2 separate regions of the Homo sapiens genome follow, and region 2 is linked to region 1. The links come from fine-mapping of genetic effects on gene expression. A gene starts in region 1. The other region holds a variant in brackets. All regions are shown on one strand. Distances are between the middles of the regions. Region 1 holds the start of LINC01579 (long intergenic non-protein coding RNA 1579). Region 2 overlaps LOC105370982 (a long non-coding RNA gene).

Evidence for each region. PIP is the estimated chance that this variant, and not a neighbour inherited with it, causes the effect.
Region 2: its variant is fine-mapped to the expression of LINC01579 in prefrontal cortex (CommonMind, PIP 0.95).

The regions. Positions count from the first base shown.
Region 1 is chr15:93,897,887-93,902,283 of GRCh38, reverse strand. LINC01579 (long intergenic non-protein coding RNA 1579) reads left to right here and starts at 1,685. Exons shown (of 4, transcript NR_138083.1): 1 at 1,685-1,933; 2 at 2,149-2,248; 3 at 2,948-3,020. LINC01580 (long intergenic non-protein coding RNA 1580) reads right to left here and starts at 1,583. Exons shown (of 3, transcript NR_120323.1): 1 at 1,506-1,583.
Region 2 is chr15:93,219,013-93,223,409 of GRCh38, reverse strand. LOC105370982 (a long non-coding RNA gene) reads right to left here. Exons shown (of 7, transcript XR_007064770.1): 2 at 3,626-3,756. Among named protein-coding and RNA genes, the nearest start is that of RGMA, 130 kb to the right of the region's middle. The variant G/A (reference allele first, on the strand shown) is at 1,739.

The sequences.
Region 1 (4,397 bases):
AGATTCTCCACTTGAAGCTGCTGCTGATATTCATGCAAGCCCTTCAATCCCCATGGTCCCTGTTTCATTTCAGGCTTTTATTAGCTCATGCCTGAACTAGTATGATAGCATTGTAATAAAATTTTCTATTTCACTTTTTTTTTCTGTTTTTAGGCTGTACTTTACTGTCAGATTTAGTCTTCCTCAACTAGCAGTATATAAGTTTTCACTCCCTAGTTACAAATTTGATGGATTCCTTTAAAATTTAAATCCAAACTCCCTGGCATTCAGGACCGTAAGACAATTTTCTCCCAATATATCTCTACAACCTTGTATGTAAATGCTACCATAAAAATAAGGTTCAAACAATCCACTTGTAAACACGCTACACAGGCCAGGTGTGGTATCTCACACCTGTAATTCCAGCACTTTGGGAGGCTGAGGCAGGATAATTGCTTCAGCCCAAGAGTCAAGACCAGGCTGGACAACATAGTGAGAACCCATCTCTATAAATAACAAAAAAAAAGTAGCCAGGCATGGTGTATCGCACCTGTAGTCCCAGCTACTTGGGAGGCTGAAGTGGGAGGACTGCTTGAGCCCAGGAGGTTGAGGCTGAAGTGAGCCATAATCACACCACTGCACTCCAGCCTGGGCAATAAAGCAACAAAGTGAGACCCTGTATTTCTCAAACAAACAAAAACAAAAAACAAAAAACAAGAAGGAAGAAAGAGAAGAAGAAAGAAAAGAAAAATACATAAATAAAAATAGACACATAGACATGCTGTAGAGTTATTACGGGCATACAGTGTGCCAAGCACATATGTATGAGCTTTACATATAGTGACTTTCATAACAACCCTATAAAATAGAATGACCATAGTTACAGAAGTAGTCACAATAGTAATTGTAGTAGCAGCAGTGATGGCACCGGCCACCTGTCTGGAGCGGCCGCTGCAAAGACACCGGCTGCACCAGGGGAGGTGCCGCCAGAGCTGCGCACTCAGCAAAGCCAGGGTGGGTGGAGGGCCGGGGCGGGGGGAGCTGGGAACAGGCAGGGGTCCCGCCCCCTACCGAGCTAAAGGGTGGGGAACCCGTGCTAGGGGCACAGCTGCAGAGCTGCCGCCGCAGACCCAGGCATCCCTGTGCTTTCGGGGGGCCAGGAAGCCCCTGACCCCACAGGTTCAGCAGTGCCTGCTTGCTCCCATTCCTGGCCTCTGCCTGCTCCCTGTGCCCACTTCAATTTTGGAGCAAAGTGATGGCCAAGCCTGGGTGCTGCTGCAACCTGGCCAGGCGTGCGCATGCTCAGGGAGGCGCTGTTACACCAGCCCCCTGCCTCCTCAGCCCCCTCTGGACTTTGGGCACTGATGAGCACGGGAGAGAGGCGAGGAGGCGCTGTGGGCTGCTGGGCTCAGGCCTAGAGGCGCCCTTCAAAACGAACAGCCTGGGTGCTGTGGAGGGCACGTTGATGGCAGCAAAAGGAAGACAGGCTACTGGACAGAAAGGGACGGGTCCCAGTGAAGCCCCACCTTCAAGCCAGGGATGGCTTCAATCCTGGAGGCCGCGCTGTCAGTTCCGGTCGGAGTCTGTGGCCTGGAGTGAGCACTAATGGTTCTTTTTCCAGGCCCGCCCATGGCCACCCATGGACCAATCAGCATGCACTTCCTCCCTTCTGAACCCATAAAAACCCCGCTCCCCGGACGCAGCCGGAGTCACGCGAAGTCGGAAGTACCAGCTGCGGGAAGGAGCTGCCCACTGTGCGTCTTCTCAACTTGTTGGGACAACCTTCCTGCGGAAAGGAGAGACAACCTTCCTGCAGAAAGGAGCTACCTGCTTCAGGTCTACTGAGAGCTGTTCTGCCACTCAATAAAGCTCTTCTCCATCTTGCTAAGCCTCCATTTGTCCGCAATACCTCATCTCCCTGGACGCAGGACAAGAACTCAGGACCCGCCTGGAGGTACTAAAAGAGCTTTAACACAAACAGGGCTGAAACACGCTCCCTTGCTTGCCACATTGCGGGTGACGAGAAGGAGAAAAGAGCTGTGTTCCTTTGAGGATCCCAGACCTAGGGTCTCCCTGAGCCAGGGCTGTGACACTCCCTTTGGGGTTCTATGGTTCCTGGCATCTTCAAGCTTCCAGGCGCCACCACCTTCGTTCCCTTCATCCAAACAGGTGCCCACAGCAGAATCCACATGCCGTCCATCTGGTCCAGCCTCACGCAGAGCCACAACTGTGCTGGCGCCTGGAGCTGCCAGCCCCACTGCAGCAGCCGGTATGTATGGCTGTTGCCGGTCCCTGCGCTCGTTCACCCACACACCCCTTGCGGCTCCGCGCCTAGCTCTCCCTGGGCAGGTGTGGGATCTGGGCTGGTGGCGGGAGCCAAGCACAGCCTACCGGGCCAAGTGGGCGGAACAAGCCCAGTGGGCACGAGCAATACTCAGGCAGAAGGTGCTGCCAGCAACAGAGGTTTCTGGCTGATGAAACGACACCTCAAGGATCCCATGACAGCAGTAATAGTAGCTGTGGTAGCAGTCATAATAGTAGTTATTGTACTAGCAGACGTAGTAGTTATAACAATAGTTATAATAGTTGTCTTAATAGCAGTGAGAGTAGTTACAGTAGCAGTTAAAATCGTTGTAGGAACAGCAACTACAAATACTTGATTGACTAACACTAGTACAACTAAGATATTTATAGTACTTACCATGCACCGGAGAGTTCACACACATTATTCTTTGCCTTTTGACCATTTTCCTCCTTTGAGATAATTGTCTCCTCATCTGTCTCTCCTCTCTCTCCTTTAGGCATTTCATCTGTGAAACTATTTATATCCCTTAAGGGATGCCCCTCCATATCTTTATATCTACTTCTCCTTCATCCCAGCTCCAATATTGTGTCTTACCATCATTATGTTTTGTAAAAGGAAAAAAGAAGCCATTCCCTACTTTAAACTTCTCTGCTTTGTATCTAGGACTGACATTCAGACGTGGAGCAAGTTGGACTGCATAGGGACCCACCAGTGAGATGGACGCTGTCTGTAAACGGTAGGGATGGCGGCCCGTCGCGGTGGCTCACGCCTGTAACCCCAGCACTTTGGGAGGGCGAGACGGGCGGATTATGAGGTCAGGACACCGAGACCATCCTGGCTAACACGGTGAAACCCCATCTCTACTAAAAAAAAAAAAAAATCAGCCGGGTGTGGTAGTGTACCTGTAGTCCCAGCTACTTGGGAGGCGGAGGCAAGAGAATCGCTTGAACCCGGGAGGCGGAGGTTGCAGGTAGCCGAGATAGCGGCATTGCACTCCATCCTGGGTGACACAGTGAGACTCTGTCTCAAAAACAAACAAACAAACAAACAAAAAGGAGTAGAGATGGCTGTGCTGGCCACACTCTGCCTCCATCCACCTTTCCTGACACTCTACTCCATGCTGGCCACTTGGCATGTTTGACTTTCCATCACTGACTGCCCTGAGCTAACCTACTTTTTTTGTCTGTTATTTTCCATATGAGCAAATCCCTAACAAAATCTTAAATTTTTATGAGGGGATGTAGGAGGGGTATTATCTATGGATGTTAATGGTATTTTTCATAGATGCCATCTTTTCTAATTTAAAAATTAAGGCATAATATTCAGAGTAGGAAATCTGTAATACATGAAGTTATAAAAAGTGATCCTTTATGTAATCACACATAATCCTTCTACCTCTAGGACATCATGGTACATACATGTTGATGTCTATCCTTTTAGTTTTATACACACAATTTTTTGTCAATTGTTTATTTTTATTTAGCAAAATAGTGTGACCATCTCAAAAAATACTCATTCTTCAAAAGTGTACCTTTTCCAATAGTGCCCAGTGAAACCTTTTATATATATATTTACAAAATTCATACTGAATACTGTAATTATTTCCTTGTTTTCAGGCAAAACCCTTTTTACTATTTTTATTACTTATTGATACATAATATTTGCACATATTTATGGGGGACATGAGAAATTTTGGTACACATATAGAATGTGTAATGACCAAGTCAGGGTATTTAAGATATCCATCACCTGGAATATTTACCATTTCTTTGTGTTGAGAACATTTCATATCTTTTCTTCTAGCTATTTTGAAATATACAACATATTGTTAACTACAGTTAACCTTCTGCGCCGTCAAGCACTAGAATTTATTCCTTCTGCCTAACAGTGTACTTTTAAATGGATGCATAGATCATAATTTACCCTCATTTTTGGTCACTGAGAGTATATGTAGAGTGTATACTTATTTAGGACAGAGTGAGGATTAGGGTTAGTAAAGCCCTCTGCCTTCCCTAGTTCTTCATTATCCCGTTTGTACACAAGCATTAGTACATAATGCTTTTCTGTGTCTCACCTCTAGCTTTCAAAACTTTGTATGGCAAAGCAAAACCCA
Region 2 (4,397 bases), 680 kb after region 1:
TAAAGAGTGAACTTACTATATTTATATTTAAATTCAAAATAAAAGTAATTGCAATACACCTCTTTGAAAAAGTATTTGGTGGTAGGCACTGCAGGTGAACATATGTATACCCTATCGCTCAGCATTTTCACTGGGAGTAGATATAGAGACCTAGCAGAAATGCCTACATATATTCACCAGAAGATGTAACAGCACTGCAGAGTAGCCAAACCCCAGAAACCACCATATGTGCATTAGCTATAGAACAGATAAATAAATTGTGGTACAGTTATACAACAGAATGCTATAAGGCAATGAGAATAAACAGCTTATAGTTACACAACTCACAATCAATGTTAAGCCATAGAACTAGACACGAAAGCGTACATAATATATGAATTCACTCATAAAAGGCAAAACCGGCTGTGCGCAGTGGCTCACACCTGTAATCCCAGCACTTTGGGAGGCTGAGGCAGGTGGATCATGAGGTCAGGAGATGGAGACCATCCTGGCTAACACGGTGAAACCCCGTCTCCACTAAAAATACAAAAAAATTAGCCAGGCGTGGTGGCAGGCGCCTGTAGTCCCAGCTACTTGGGAGGCTGAGGCAGGAGAATTGTGTGGACCTGGGAGGGGTAGCTTGCAGTGAACTGAGATCGTGCCACTGCACTCCAGCCTGGGCAACAGAGCGAGACTCCATCTCAAAAAAAAAAAAAAAAAAAAAAAAAAGGCACAAACATGTGGCCGGGTGTGGTGGCTCACACCGGTAATCCCAGCACTTTGGGAGGCCGAGGCGGGTGGATCATGAGGTCAAGAGATCGAGACCATCCTGGCCAACATGGTGAAACCCCGTCTCTACTAAAAATACAAAAATTAGCTGGGCTTGGTGGCATCCGCCTGTAGTCCCAGCTACTCGGGAGGCTGCGGCAGGAGAATTGCTTGAACCCAGGAGGTGGAGGTTGCAGTGAGCTGAGATCACGCCACTGCACTCTAGCCTGGAGACAGAGCGAGACTCCATCTCAAAAAAAAAAAAAAAAGGCACAGACACAGGCAAAACTAATCAGTGGTGTTAGGAGTTGAGGCAGTGGGTGCCTTTGAGAGAATAGTAACTGTTTCTTGGTCAGAGTGGTCTGTTACAAGGGTGTGTTCCGTTTTTGAAAACTTGGTGATACATGCATTTGTGATTTGTGCACTTTTCTACATTTGAGTTGTAAATTTAATTTTTAAAAAGATTTAAATACAAAGTATTAAGCATTTATTCCAAATATTTGAGTCAAGAGCTCCAGAAAAATACACCAAGAGCTTCAAATAACCCTGGCAGACATGAGTCTGTGTTTTGCAGTTTGAGACACACACTCATAATGAAGAAGGAATTCATGAATTTTACAAGTATAATCAAAAACAACCAAAAATTTTTACTTTTTGCTTCAAAAGCTAAGTGTAGTGTAGCGCCCCCCGTAGTCTAAGTTGGAGAAGAATACTAACTGCCTGTTTTTCCTTCTGTGCTCAGCGAGCCCTATCTGTACTCCCCAGTTTCACATTCCTTGAGGCTCGGTGAGTTCCTGCTTCACCCCTCTAGCACAGCTGCAAAGTTACAAGGTTGATACAGAAACATGGTTTCCCAGGGATGTGGAACATACAGTATAGATAAATGTAAAAGACTCATCAACTGCCTTCGTTCTCGATTCTGTAAGTACACTTCCTGCATCACGTAGCTCCCAGCCACCGACTGCTTAAAAGGTGGCTGCTTTCTTTGTCC[G/A]GGGCTCAGACTTTCCTGGATGCTGGTCCTACTGAGCCAGGTGATCACCTTTTAATAAAGACCTTTCCTGAACTCACTCTGTTCGGTCTCTCCCATCTTTGATTGTCCCGCAACAATAATATTACTGTTAACCAATCCTCATAGTCTGCTTGGAAATAAACAGATTTTTTGCAATGCTCTATGGCTTACCCAGAAACCTCCAGATTTTTTTACTTTTTTGAAAAGTAAAAAATTTCTCTCTCTTTTTTGCCAAAGCAAAATAAGGTGTCAGTGATATCTTGGGGTTATAAGGGGTTAGGGTAGAAATGTTGACAGTGCAATGATTGTGAGCTGTGGGATAGCCTTCTCTGCTACCTATTCCAAATTAGCAATAAAAAGAAACAAACTTAATATGTGCAACAAGATAGATAAATCTCAAATGCATTATACCCAATAAAAGAAGTCAGACTCAAAAAGTTACATACTGCATGAATGGACAACAAGTCAACAACCACACTCCCAAGTTCATGCATTACTATTCCAGACCACAAGATTTAAGAAAACTCCATTTTGATCCTTCTCTCTTCTCTTGCTTACTCACATTTTTTCTCTCTCCCTGTGTATCAGTCTGGATCAGCTAGATTATGCTGCAGTAACAAATAATCTCATCTCAGTGGTTCAGAAACAGTTTTATTTCTAACTCATTCTGCAGTCCATGGGGAGTTGGCAGAGCCTCTGCTTATCATAGCTGCTGTGGGGCCCCAGTGGGTTGCCATGCCAAAAGGAAAAAGATTTCTGGGGGTCTTGTGTGTCTCCAAAATAACCCATGTCCCTTTTGCTCACAAGACTTTGGTCAGAATTATTCCAATCACAATGGAGCCAAGAAGCGCAATCCTACCATGCGTTCAAGAGGAGAACTAGGAATATTTGTTGAACTTCGTTTTCTACCATTCCCTCCTCAATTCAAATTTCTAGAAGAATAGAGTGGGTTCCATCTCACTGTGTTGTCCCCTCCTGCTTCAATTATCTAGCCTATGGGCTGGTGGGGAAAGAGGAAACTGTATACTTCATATATATATGGGAACAGGAGATGGATGGATGAGGATGGGAGGACAATTCACAGAGTCACAGGCCAAGCAAATGTACCCCATAAGATATAGAAATAGGACCTCTGGGTGTGGGTGTGGTGGGGGACAGGTCTATATGGATTAAAAAGCACAAAACAAAGAGATGCAGATACAGAATGAAAATATTATTAACCAAAGCAGCTCATGCCCATTACCAAAACTCCAACCACACAGTATTCCTTCAGGGCAATGCTTCAACCATGTAGCCGTGGACATCCTTGCAAAGGAGGAAAAGGTTTTTTCTCTGAGTTAAACCATGATGGGGACTGAGCTCATAAAAGCACATTCAGATTTTTTTGCTGCTCCACTACATAATTTATGTCCTAGTCAGGCACAATTTTCATTTAATCAAGAGCTATCTTGTCTCCAACCTTTCAATTGGGAGTAACTTTGTACAAGATGAAAATAACCTCATCCATCATGATGATAGAAATTGTTCTATATCTTCCAGGCTTTTACTTCTGACAAAATGCCAGGAATCCTGCTTCCTTGGGTGGCTTATGGAAATGCAGCAGACCCAAATTTCATTAGGACTGTAATAGCATGTCCTGTCCATGGATTAATGTGTGCCAGATGTGCAGGTTCAACCACATCTGCAAGCACCAGCCACCTGCTCAGAGGAGTCGGCCTCCAAAGCCAAGGCAAGAGAAGGCTGCTAACATTTTATTTGCCCTCCACCCTGGAGCAAAAATAATAATAATAATAATAATAACTTAAAATGCGGCAGAGGGATTGCCTAGCTTTTATTCAAAGGGGTGATGGTTTACATGAAGCTACGTACCACTAGGTCTTTCCAAGCATCTTTCTTGGACTTCTGCACCAATGTATTTAAAGGCTGAAAACCAAAGTTCCCATCCCATCACAGTGATCTTGGATAAATTCCTCGGCATCCGTGAGCTTTGCATTCCTTGTCTGTAAAATGACAGCAACAACACGAACTTGCAGGGTGGCAGTGAAAATGAAATGAGATGAAACAGAAGAAATTGCATTGCACAGTGAGAGGAGCATAGTAATTGCTCAATAAATGTTGTCCAGTCCACATTTGCGATTTTTTTTTAAGTCACATAGGTAGGGCCAAGACTGCGCTTGGATCCAGTGTGCTTGGGCCAGTGGGCTTGGATCTTGCTTTCATTCTCAAACCTGTCACCCTTCACATACACACTCAATCTCTCTCTCATGCACACACACTCTCTCTCTCAGCTTTGTTTGGGCCTGTACTATAGTGCAGGGGTTGGCTTGAGAGGCAGGAGGAACAGAAGGGCCCAGGCAAGTCATTTCTGAAAGTAAAAGTCAGAAACAGAGACATGGCAGAATGCAGGCCTAATCTACCCCTCTTCACTTCACTCACGTGGCCTGCAGAGCACATGGCAGTGCTGACAGGAATCTATGCACATATGCACTACCCACATACCCCTAAGCAATATATGGTTTAGTTTTGATTGTTTTTAATCTTTATATAAATGAAGCCATCCTTATCTATTCCTGTATGACTTTTGTTTTTCATTCAACATTATTTTTCTGAGATTCATTCATGTTAATGCATGAAGCTGTAA